3 linked regions of the Homo sapiens genome follow. The protein of the gene in region 3 purifies or fractionates together with the protein of the main gene of each other region. This does not show direct contact. Each region holds a gene or a part of one and is shown on either strand. Other genes may lie near its edges.

The links.
Region 1: the proteins of CFAP298 (region 3) and SERPINB2 purify together in Homo sapiens (affinity purification with mass spectrometry; 3 studies listed by BioGRID and IntAct, with this or other methods). This does not show direct contact.
Region 2: the proteins of CFAP298 (region 3) and SERPINA12 purify together in Homo sapiens (affinity purification with mass spectrometry; 3 studies listed by BioGRID and IntAct, with this or other methods). This does not show direct contact.

The regions. Positions count from the first base shown.
Region 1 is NC_000018.10:63,900,842-63,904,417, reverse strand, and holds the end of SERPINB2 (plasminogen activator inhibitor 2), read right to left. Parts: intron 2,679-3,576; coding exon 2,536-2,678; intron 2,015-2,535; coding exon 1,850-2,014; intron 1,518-1,849; coding exon 1,113-1,517; 3' UTR 530-1,112; downstream 1-529. UniProt on the Homo sapiens protein: Inhibits urokinase-type plasminogen activator. The monocyte derived PAI-2 is distinct from the endothelial cell-derived PAI-1.
Region 2 is NC_000014.9:94,486,779-94,489,624, forward strand, and holds the end of SERPINA12 (serpin A12 precursor), read right to left. Parts: coding exon 2,842-2,846; intron 717-2,841; coding exon 525-716; 3' UTR 501-524; downstream 1-500. UniProt on the Homo sapiens protein: Adipokine that modulates insulin action by specifically inhibiting its target protease KLK7 in white adipose tissues.
Region 3 is NC_000021.9:32,605,857-32,609,590, forward strand, and holds part of CFAP298 (cilia- and flagella-associated protein 298), read right to left. Parts: intron 1,861-3,734; coding exon 1,793-1,860; intron 1-1,792. Other genes in the region: CFAP298-TCP10L (uncharacterized protein LOC110091775), read right to left, coding at 1,793-1,860. UniProt on the Homo sapiens protein: Plays a role in motile cilium function, possibly by acting on outer dynein arm assembly. Seems to be important for initiation rather than maintenance of cilium motility.

The sequences.
Region 1 (3,576 bases), on a different chromosome or scaffold from region 3:
CTGTTGTTCAGGCCCCCAACCTACAATTTGCCTTATTTCTCAGGTCTTCAATTATGTTCTCCTCTGCCTCTGACTCATTCAAAAGCATTACTGCTATTAGAAACAAACACACTTAGAAAGAGCCATCTTATGTTTCCCCTCCTGCTCTTGCACCCAACCCATCTCCCATCTTCACTGCTTGCAACTCTGAGCTCAATGACTGAGGCCTTCTTCTGTGTCTGGACCACTGGACTTGGTCATTAATCCTGGTGTCCTTAATGTTTAGACAGTGGTTTCCCCAAAGGACTCTAACCTAGACTATTCTGAATTGCTATGTCTTTGCTGCTGTGAGAAAGCAGCTCTAACCCATTTTTCATACAACCCCATCCCACTGACCCTCAACATTGGGTCTTTTTGAATGAAGGTTGTTATGTCCTTGGCTCCTTCATCCTGTCTATTTTTTCTGAGTTCTCACAAGTGAGTCATAATGCTCAACTCCTAGGAGTCAAGGTCTATGATCTGCAGACCTAATGAAATGACAACAAATGTATTGTTGTTTGGAAGCAGGTTTATTTATTATATACTTGCAATTGAATATAAGATACAGACATATATATGTGTTATGTATTTCTAGAAATGCACATAACATATATTTGCCTATTGTTTAATGTTTTTTCCAGATATTTATTACAGAAGGGCATGGAGGGATACCTACTTATTCTTCATTATGAGAACAATTAAAGGCATTTATTAGATAGGAAATTAACAGATCATCTGCTTCTATAACTTTATTAGCTACATTAAATAGGCAGTGAGCAATAATTTAAAAACTCACCATTATATAAAATAATAAATAACAAAGTAAAAGTTAATGTTATAAAAATAAACTGATAGTAAGGAAAATCTAAATGGGCATGATCCCATTTTAGAAGACCAAATGATTAATAGGGTTGTCATGTTATAATAGACAATTGTCTAATTATTTCTGTGTTTTTATTTAGTGGGTAGCAGAAGTTGTTCAGAAGAGCAGAAATATGTAGAAAACATCTCTAAATTTTTGGCAATTTGAAATAGCAATTCTGAGGCACACAGCTCATCTACAAAAATCTTTTGCAGAAGCAGCACGCTTAGTTTTAGGGTGAGGAAAATCTGCCGAAAAATAAAATGCAGTTGGTTATCTTATGCATAATAAGAAAAAGAAAAGGATGATCTGCCACAAACTGTGGGCCTCCATGTCCAGTTCTCCCTGTCATAACACCTCCTGTGCCAGCGGCTGCTTCAGTGCCCTCCTCATTCACATCCACCATGGCTTGGTGGAACACTTCAGAAAGAAACAGGTCATTCCTCTCCGACATCCCTGAGAAATTGGCCCGTCCCTTGTTGAAGGCGTCCTCCATGCCCATGCTTCTCAGAATGGATCTGAGTTCATAATGCTCTTCTAATTTGAACTGGGGTATGTATACCTCAACTTCATCTTCAGCCATTTTGTCTTTGCTGGTCCACTTGTTGAGTTTGTCATAGGTTATTTCACTTTCCAGCTGCAAAGCAAAACAAAACAAAACAAACAAAAGAAAATACAGCAAGTATTAGAAAGAAGGAAAACAACTTTAAGTCTAATATTAAAAATCAGTGACTTTACTATATTGTGGGTGATATAGAAAGTTAACAGATTGGTCAGATTTTTACAAGAAGGTAACACGTATGACATAGTTAAGGCTTTGAATGAAATGTAGAGGCATGCCATATTTACTATCAACTGTTTCATATATTTCCATGAGAAATTACCACACCATTTGTAAGGAGTATATATTCATCTCATCTCACGAAAGGTAGGTATAGCCCCAGAAACTTAAATATCTGAATGTCTTACCAGCTCCAAGCCAGTGGACACATCGGCAATTTCATCTGGAAGCAACAAGAACATGCTAACATCTCCAGCATATGGGAGTTCTAGAATCTGAGCCTTTAGGTCTTCTATGTATCCAATGTTTAGCTTTTCACGCAAGTACATCATCTGTACAGGTGTGCGCTGAGCCTAATATTATTAAAAGGTAAAATATGGAAGTCGATTATAAGATATCAAGAGATTTACAATTAGACATAAAGGAGGATTGGTTCTACTTTAGTGTAGGATAAATGTGATTTTTTTAAATCAACAAAATAAATTATTTGTACATCCTTACAGTGGGTACTCTGATGTTATTAGCTTGTTCAACTTTATACCCATTATTTAGTAAGATGGACAACAATGGTAATGACAACCATAATTCTAAAACACTTGTTTAGTTCTTACTATGGGCCAGGAACCGTGCCATGTCTCAATATTTACAGCCCTTTGAAATAAGTGGTAGAGCCAACGTTGGAGTCTGGGCATGTATAATTAAAAAGCCACAGTCTTCCCCTTTACCTATACTGTTTCTAAAGAGTCAATCAACTGTCCAACATGCATAACTTCTAACTAGCAAGTCTATAATGAGCGGTCTCTAATTTTTCTGTCTATATCTTGTCAAAAGCCCTAAAATATATGCTAGGAAGATGTATTTTGTTGTCTCATACCGAGTTTACACGGAAAGGATAAAGCCCATTTAGTTTCTTCTCAAATGGAGTTTTCCACTTTCCTTTGAAGTAGACAGCATTCACCAGGACCATCCTGGTATCCCCATCTACAGAACCTTCAGGTAACAAGTTTGGGATTTTGCCTACAGAAAACATAACATATATTTAGGTTTCATAATCAAGAACTGTGAAATTACTTACTGAATCTTCTGAGTAGCCATCAAACTAAATTCTTCAAATTGCAGAGTTGTTAATCTTCAAGCTAAAGTTTTTTAGGTTTATTTAAAGCAAAATTAAAATTGAAACAAATTTCCCAAAAGCTTGCAAAATCCAAGAAAAAATGAAGAAATAATGCATTTAAAATTTAGACCGCCTATCAAGTTTGGAATGGAGATTTTCACTCCCTTTTATATTCTTTTCTCAAAGCTTGGCAGTTGAAAGTTATTCAAATCAGAGGGAAGTGAAAGAGAGGTTCTTAGGGAATATAATAGTGCCTTTCCAAAATATATCATGTACTGCTAGATCTGGTCTAGATAGTCTGAGGATCTGACTTACTCATTTATTCAAAAACGTTTTGTAAAAAATATACTAGACCTAAATTAAGAGTAGTGCAGATACAAGAGATGAGAAAGGAAGAATTATCCTGGATGAGCCTAGAACACTGGGGGAGACATTCAAAATCAGTTGTGAAACCCTGTGTGATAACTTCTGTAATTGAGCTAAATAATATATTGAGTACTATGATCATACAGAGAAGGGAGTGAAGGAGTAAGCCCGAGAAGATTGACAGAAACAATGACAAATGAGTGTGGTCATTTAAAAAAATGAAATTGGTTTAAGAAGCAGTTTGTTTATAGTTAGTACTCGCTCTGCAGTATTCCAAGCATCAAAATATATTATTTTGATACTCTATTAGGTGGGTTTTATTAGTGTCATTTTATGCAAAAGGACACCACCAGGTTAGCAGTCTTCCCAACGTTACAATGCTGGTAAGCTTGTAAAAATTCTGCCTCCACAGTCAAAACTACTGACAAATACAAG
Region 2 (2,846 bases), on a different chromosome or scaffold from region 3:
GGACCGACTTTGTTAAAGCACTGAACTAGCTTCCTTGGAGCCCCAAAGGGAGGGGCGGGACCTTCACTTCAGAAATAAGAAGACAGACTCAGAGAGGGTTTGTGGCTTTCCCAAAGATACCTCATTCCAGGATTTGAACCCCAGTCTCTCACTCGAGACCCCAGGTACTTGCTGTGGCCCATACCTTCCCCAAATTATCCACCAACAGCCAGTCAACCTGGGGCAGGGCTGTGGGGGAGAAACATTTGTTTACTAAATCACAGAGTCCCTCTGCCCGCTGGAGGGGAGAGGAGAATGCCACCAAGTGGGCGGGGGTGGGGCATTGCATCCCAGCATTTGAATGGGCAGGGAGGAAATGGGGCACAGGACTTCTAGAACTTGCAGTTTTGCTCATTCGGGCTGTCTAGGGAGGTGGTGACAGGGAGAGACTAAACTGAAATGTGCCTGTGACTTCCATCTCAGGAAGATGGAACATGTTCAACCCCAAGCCATGTTCGGGGTCTGTGGCAAGCAGGAATTCTCCTTTATTTTCCAATAGGGTTAACAATCTTTCCCAGGAAGAGCACGGAAGGTATTTTCTCGCTGTAAATCAGCAGCAGATAGGGTTTGTCTATCTTGACGACGAGTGGTGTCTCCATGGGCAGAGTCTGTGCTCCGGTGCCAGCGGCCCCTTCCGTACCCCTCTCATCCATCTTCAGCTCAGCCTTGTGCACAGCCTACGGAAGCCAAGGGCAAAGTCAAGGTCTGCCAAGCTCCTTGGCGACCACAGTGGGCCGGAGGCCCAGAGAGGATCAGAGAGGAAGACCACTTGGCCCAAGCCATCCAGCACAGCAGTAACTTGGTTTACTCCAGGGTTCCTGGCTCTTTCGCCATTAATGCTGGAGAATATTCGACAAGCAGATGCCGTGTGAAGGAAAAGATGGTGCAGGGGGAGCATCAGTTACGGGAGTCGGTGGGGGGAGAGATGGAGTGGGGTTTGCTTCTCTTTCTCATGGGTTACAGGGAAGCATCAACCATAGCCGTGGCAGAAAGGTCTACTGGGCTGTAGCTGGGTGAAAGTGAGGTGGTGGTACCCCCACCCTGAAGCCTCCAGCACCTCCTTTCATCCACCTGGTGGATGGTTAAGAGGGAGAAGGATTCTGGATTAGCTCTTTGAGATGACTTGCATCCCAAATCCACTCCAAAGGCATCAACGTCTGTAAACAGGTGATCAGTACTGGGAAACTAACGGGCATGTGTGAAATCCTGGCACATTTCTTGCTAGCCTACAAAATTCTCACAATTTTACTTGCAGAAAACAGGACAGTATCCTGTGTTACAATCACAGCTATCAGCAAACGTAACTACAGAAAGAAATGAGCCATTAAACTCAACAAGACCTTCAGAGCTGGTGTTAAATGTTTGTGGGAAGTCTGTGGCAGGAAAGCTCAAAAGTGAGAAAATTCTAGTAACTATGTTTCTTATGTCAACGTGAAAAATACAGTGGAATCTGTGCCATCTGATTCAGAGCAGCGGGCTCAGCTTGGCAAGCTGGATCCTTCCCAGACTGGCTTGAACCTCCCACTTTATCTCCACTAAGCACCCAATCCCCACCACCCACTACTCCATGATATCCAAAAACCCCCAGCCTTGGCCACACTGCTGCACCCATCCCCGCACCCATCTCTGCTTGTTGAAATCTTTCCCCTCCTTCAATGCCTTTTTAACCCCAAAGTAGGGTTGCCAGGTGAAATACAGGACATCCACTGAAATTTGAATTCAAGATAAACAATGAATATGTTTTAGTGTAAGTGTGTCCCGTGAAATATTCTGAACATACTGGCACTAAAAATATTATTCATCATTTATCTAAAATTCAAATTTAATTGGGTATCCTGTATGAAATCTGCTAAATCCGGTGACTCTACCTATATGGTGCTCTCTTCTTGCCCCAGACAGTCAGGTGCTCACCTTTGCCAGGGGCCACAGGCCCCTTTGCTTGGTCATCTCTTCCTATGCAGCATATGCTTATGCCAACTCATATGAAACATGTGGCCTTGGGCGCGGTGGCTCACGCCTGTAATCCCAGCACTTTGGGAGGCCAAGGTGGGTGGATGACCTGAGGTCAGGAGTTTGAGACCAGCCTGGCCAACATGGTGAAACCCTGTCTCTACTAAAAATACAAAAAAATTAGCCGGGCATGGTGGCGGGCGCCTGTAATCCCAGCTACTCGGGAGGCTGAGGCAGGAGAATTGCTTGAACCTGGGAGGTGGAGGTTGCAGTGAGCTGAGATCGCACCACTGTACTCCAGCCTGGGTGACAGTGCAAGACTCCTTCAAAAAACAAAATAAAAGAAAGAAAGGAAGGAAGGAAGGAAGAGAGAGAGAGAGAGAGAAAGAAAGAAAGAAAGAAAAAAAGAGAGAGAGAGACAGAGAAAGAAAAAGAAAGAAAGAGAGAAAGAGAGAGAGAAAGAGGAAAGAAAGAGAGAGAGAAAGAGAGAAAGAAAGAGAAAGAAAGAAAGAAAAGAAAGAAAGAAAGACGGATGTGGCCTTTGAGAGAGGGTCTGGGTTAGACCTAGACCAGTTCTAGGCCTGATAACTGTTCCAGGCCTTGATCAACGTTTGCTACATTGAATTGATTTCCAAAATAGCAGCAGTTTTAAAGACTGGAAGCATGAGGCTGGGGGAGGTTATGTGGTTTGCCCAGGATCACGGGGTTGGTAAGGGGCACAGCTGCATTCATGCCCGCCCCGACTGGTGGGTGGAGTCTCGGCTCTGACAGCCACTGTGACCCTGGCTCTGGCCCCGGCTGGGGGAAGGCCCCTGTGCTGCAGGGAGTGGAGTCCAGGCTAGGCAGGCTTACCTCGC
Region 3 (3,734 bases):
TAGTTAGTGTCAGAACGGAATTGAATTGACTGGCAGGACCCCCAGTGGGCATCAGAATGCAAAAGGCTACAGGAGAGCCTTAAAGAAAGCCACAGCTGTGGAAGTGAAAGGAAGAGGTGGACTTAAGAGGCATCATGGGAGCAGACGGTACAGAACCCCACTTCAAACCTAGAGGTGACAGAAGGGAGAAGTGTTGAAGATGACACTGAGGATTTGCCCTATAAAACCAAGACACTGTGGTTCTGTTACTGGAAACAGAGAAGCTCATAGGAGGTGCTGATTCTCAGGGACAGAACAGAGAGGGAGAGGAGTGAGGAAGCAAAGAGCTCATTTCTAGAAAACTGGACTTCAAAGTGCTGACTGGGTGTTCAGATAGAACCATCTCACAACCAGCTGGAAATTCAGGTTGGAAGTGAAGCAAGATGTCAGGGGGAAAGGATGGAAGCTTCAGAGTTATCTGCAGAGGGTGGAATTTGCATTTGGCAGAGTAGATAAGATACTGAGAGAGGAAGAAGACCAAGGATAAAAAGTACTTTCAGAAGTACACAGGCAAAGGGGAGAAGTGAGGCGACCGAGAGAGGAGTTCCACAGCAAAGTGTGGGGAGAAGGGTGCAGAACAACAGCCAGACCACTGTTTTCTTGCCATGGCCTGAGACGTGCTCACATGCCTAGATGCCATCACCACGCAAACGACGGGCTCAACCAGGGCCTCTCCTGTAGAGCTTCATAAAGCCTTTCCTATATTAACAGGCACAGAGCTTCAGGGCAGCCTTTGCTGAGGCTCTTCAAAGATTAGTCAAAAGCTTGGTAAGTTTGAGAAATATTGGTTTAAAAATAACAGTTCTGCTGAGCAAACCAGGAGAAGCAGAAGAAAAAGTGGTGATCAGTCAAGAGACTTGCAGTTGAGAGCGGTAGCAACTAATATCACCAACACACAAATACAAGCAACAGATACAGATACCACTTCTTTCAATAGCCTTAAATTCTCTTCCTCCAGATACACATTATCTGTATATCAATGGTATAAATTTACGCTCCTCCCTCTATAAACTAGCCTTTGTATAAAATGCTGAAGACAATTACAAAAAACCATTTATATCAAATACATATTAAGTCAATCAAGTGTCTGGAGAGCTACTCGATGGCCACAATATTCAAATCTCCCCTACTTAACTTTGTTAAGTTCTTCAAAAAGGTAAAAGAAATGAAATCAACATTTGTATTATACATATTTGTATTATACGTGAACCTATATTTACATAAGCCAACAAAAATTTGTGTCTGCCTGGAGGAACGGAGAGGCCTCTGGGCAACCGTCAGGATTATGAAAGGAAAAGCTACAGCCTACCCCAAATACGCTTGTTTCCTTTGCCTCCGGAAGGCTGAAAGAGAAGGCTGGCTGAGAGGCAACTCTGGAAGCCAGAGTTGGAGTTTTATCTCAAAAGACAAGTTTTAGGCCGGGCGCGGTGGCTCATGCCTGTAATCCCAGCACTTTGGGAGGCCAAGACAGGCGGATCACCTGAGGTCAGGAGTTCGAGACCAGCCTGACCAACATGGAGAAACCCCGTCTCTACTAAAAATACAAAATTAGCTCGGCATGGTGGTGCATGCCTGTAATCCCAGCTACTCGGGAGGCTGAGGCAGGAGAATTGCTTGAACCCAGGAGGTGGAGGTTGTGGTGAGCCGAGATCGCACCATTGCACTCCAGCCTGGGCAACAAAAGCAAAATTCCATCTCCAAAAAAAAAAAAAAAAACCCAACAAGTTTTAGTGCATCATTTAAAAAAGCCAACCTTAGATATTATTGCTTTGGCTTCTTCTATAGTCTTCTTTAACACTTGCTTCATCTTCTCATTTGGAGCTATAAAAATAAAAAGGAGAGAGGGAGAAAGAGCTGTCAAATACAAAGCCTCTTCTGAAATACCTCAATCCCCTCTGTCTGAGTCAGGGGGTAAATGAACTGAGAGAGAGTGCGAGTGTGGAATTTAGGGAAGAGAAGCAAGAAACCTGGCTGCCGGAAGTTAGGTGAAGACCTCTTCCCAACAGCAGAGACCTGGAGTGTGCTTTACGCAAAGTGGCAAAGGCTACAAAAAACAGAAATGCATGTCGTTGGGTAAACAGGGCCGGTGAACTTTTTCTGGAAAGGGCCAGAGAGTAAAATTTGAGGCTTTGCAGGCCACACAGTCTTGTTGGGTGGGATAACTCAGCTCTGCCACGTAGCACAAGAGCAGACAATACTTAAATAACTGGGGTAGCTGCGTCTCCTTACAATTTTATTTACAATAGGCAGCTGGCTAAATTTGACCTGTAGCCCATAATTTGGTGACCCCTAGATCAGGAAAAAATAATAACTTGAAAGCTTAGAAGCCAAAAAAAAAAAAAAAAAAAAGAAGAAGATGGAATGCCCAAACCTAGGGAAAATGGGGCAAGTTGAAACCATACATTCCTAGTAAATAACAGTATTAATTAGACATTGAAAATATTAGAAACACAAGATTGTATTATAATAGAAGTGGTTAGGCTGGGCGTAGTGGCTCACGCCTGTAATCCCAGCACTTCGGAAGGCCAAGATGGGTGGATCACCTGAGGTCAGGAGTTCGAGACCAGCCTGGGCAACATGCTGAAACCCTGTCTCTATGAAAAATACAAAAATTAGCCGGGCATGGTAGCAGGCATGTGTAATCCCAGCTACTCTGGAGGCTGAGGCAGGAGAATCACTGGAATCCGGGAGGCAGAGGTTGCAGTGAGCCGAGATTGTGCCACTGCACTCCAACCTGGGTGACAGAGTAAGACTCTGTCTCAAAAAAAAAAAAAAAAAAAAAAAAGGTGGTTAATTTAAGAACATATTACATATTGGTTTAATGATGAATAATGAACTGTTAACTGGTTCTCATATTTTTTTTCCTCATCTTACCACATCTTCTTACGTAAGAAAGCTGTGGAAGACAACCATTTTTCAGGTTAACATTGAAAGGAAAAAATACTAGGAATTCTTACTATCCCTGATATTTAAAAAAATGTATTTTTGAGCTGCTAAAGGCCTTGCAGGAATACTGTTCTTTTACTCCTAACAGTGTTTTAGGGCTGTTCAATTACAGTGTTTTAAATGGCGCTTTTAATGCAGGTTAAAAAGAATAAGCTATCAAAAAGGATTATCATCAATTCCACATGATCAGCCAAACACTGAAAGGAGAGGAATTTCCTCAGTGTTTTGCCGTGTACTGAAGTGCTCTGCCCCAGAGAGAAGCATGTCCTTGATCAGGGAAGTCCATGTGCTGACATGCTTTCCCTTTCCTCTTTCACACAGTCCATCTCGAAAGATCCCCCAACATTTGCGAACAGTAACAAAACACAACTCTGAATACATTGCGGTGAGGACCTGCCAACAATTATTAGGTGGAAACACATGAAATTGCCAATACTCAACCATTTTTGAGCTACAGAAGGGAAAGGGTCATTTCATCTGGTTCGTCGAATACATATAAAAGCAAGCTGCAACTTATTAAAGAGCAAGACAAAAGCTTCCTTTATCTACCTAATTCATCCTAGATTAGAGTTTTACCAAAGGAGCTACAGAGTACAGTATTTTGTAAGTCTGTAGAGAAATGACGAGGTCAATTTTTAAACGTAAAGAACTGCTTTCTCACACCTGTAATCCCAGCACTTTGGGAGGCCGAGACCGGCAGATCATCTGAGGTCACGAGTTCGAGACCAGCCTGGCCAACATGGCAAAAC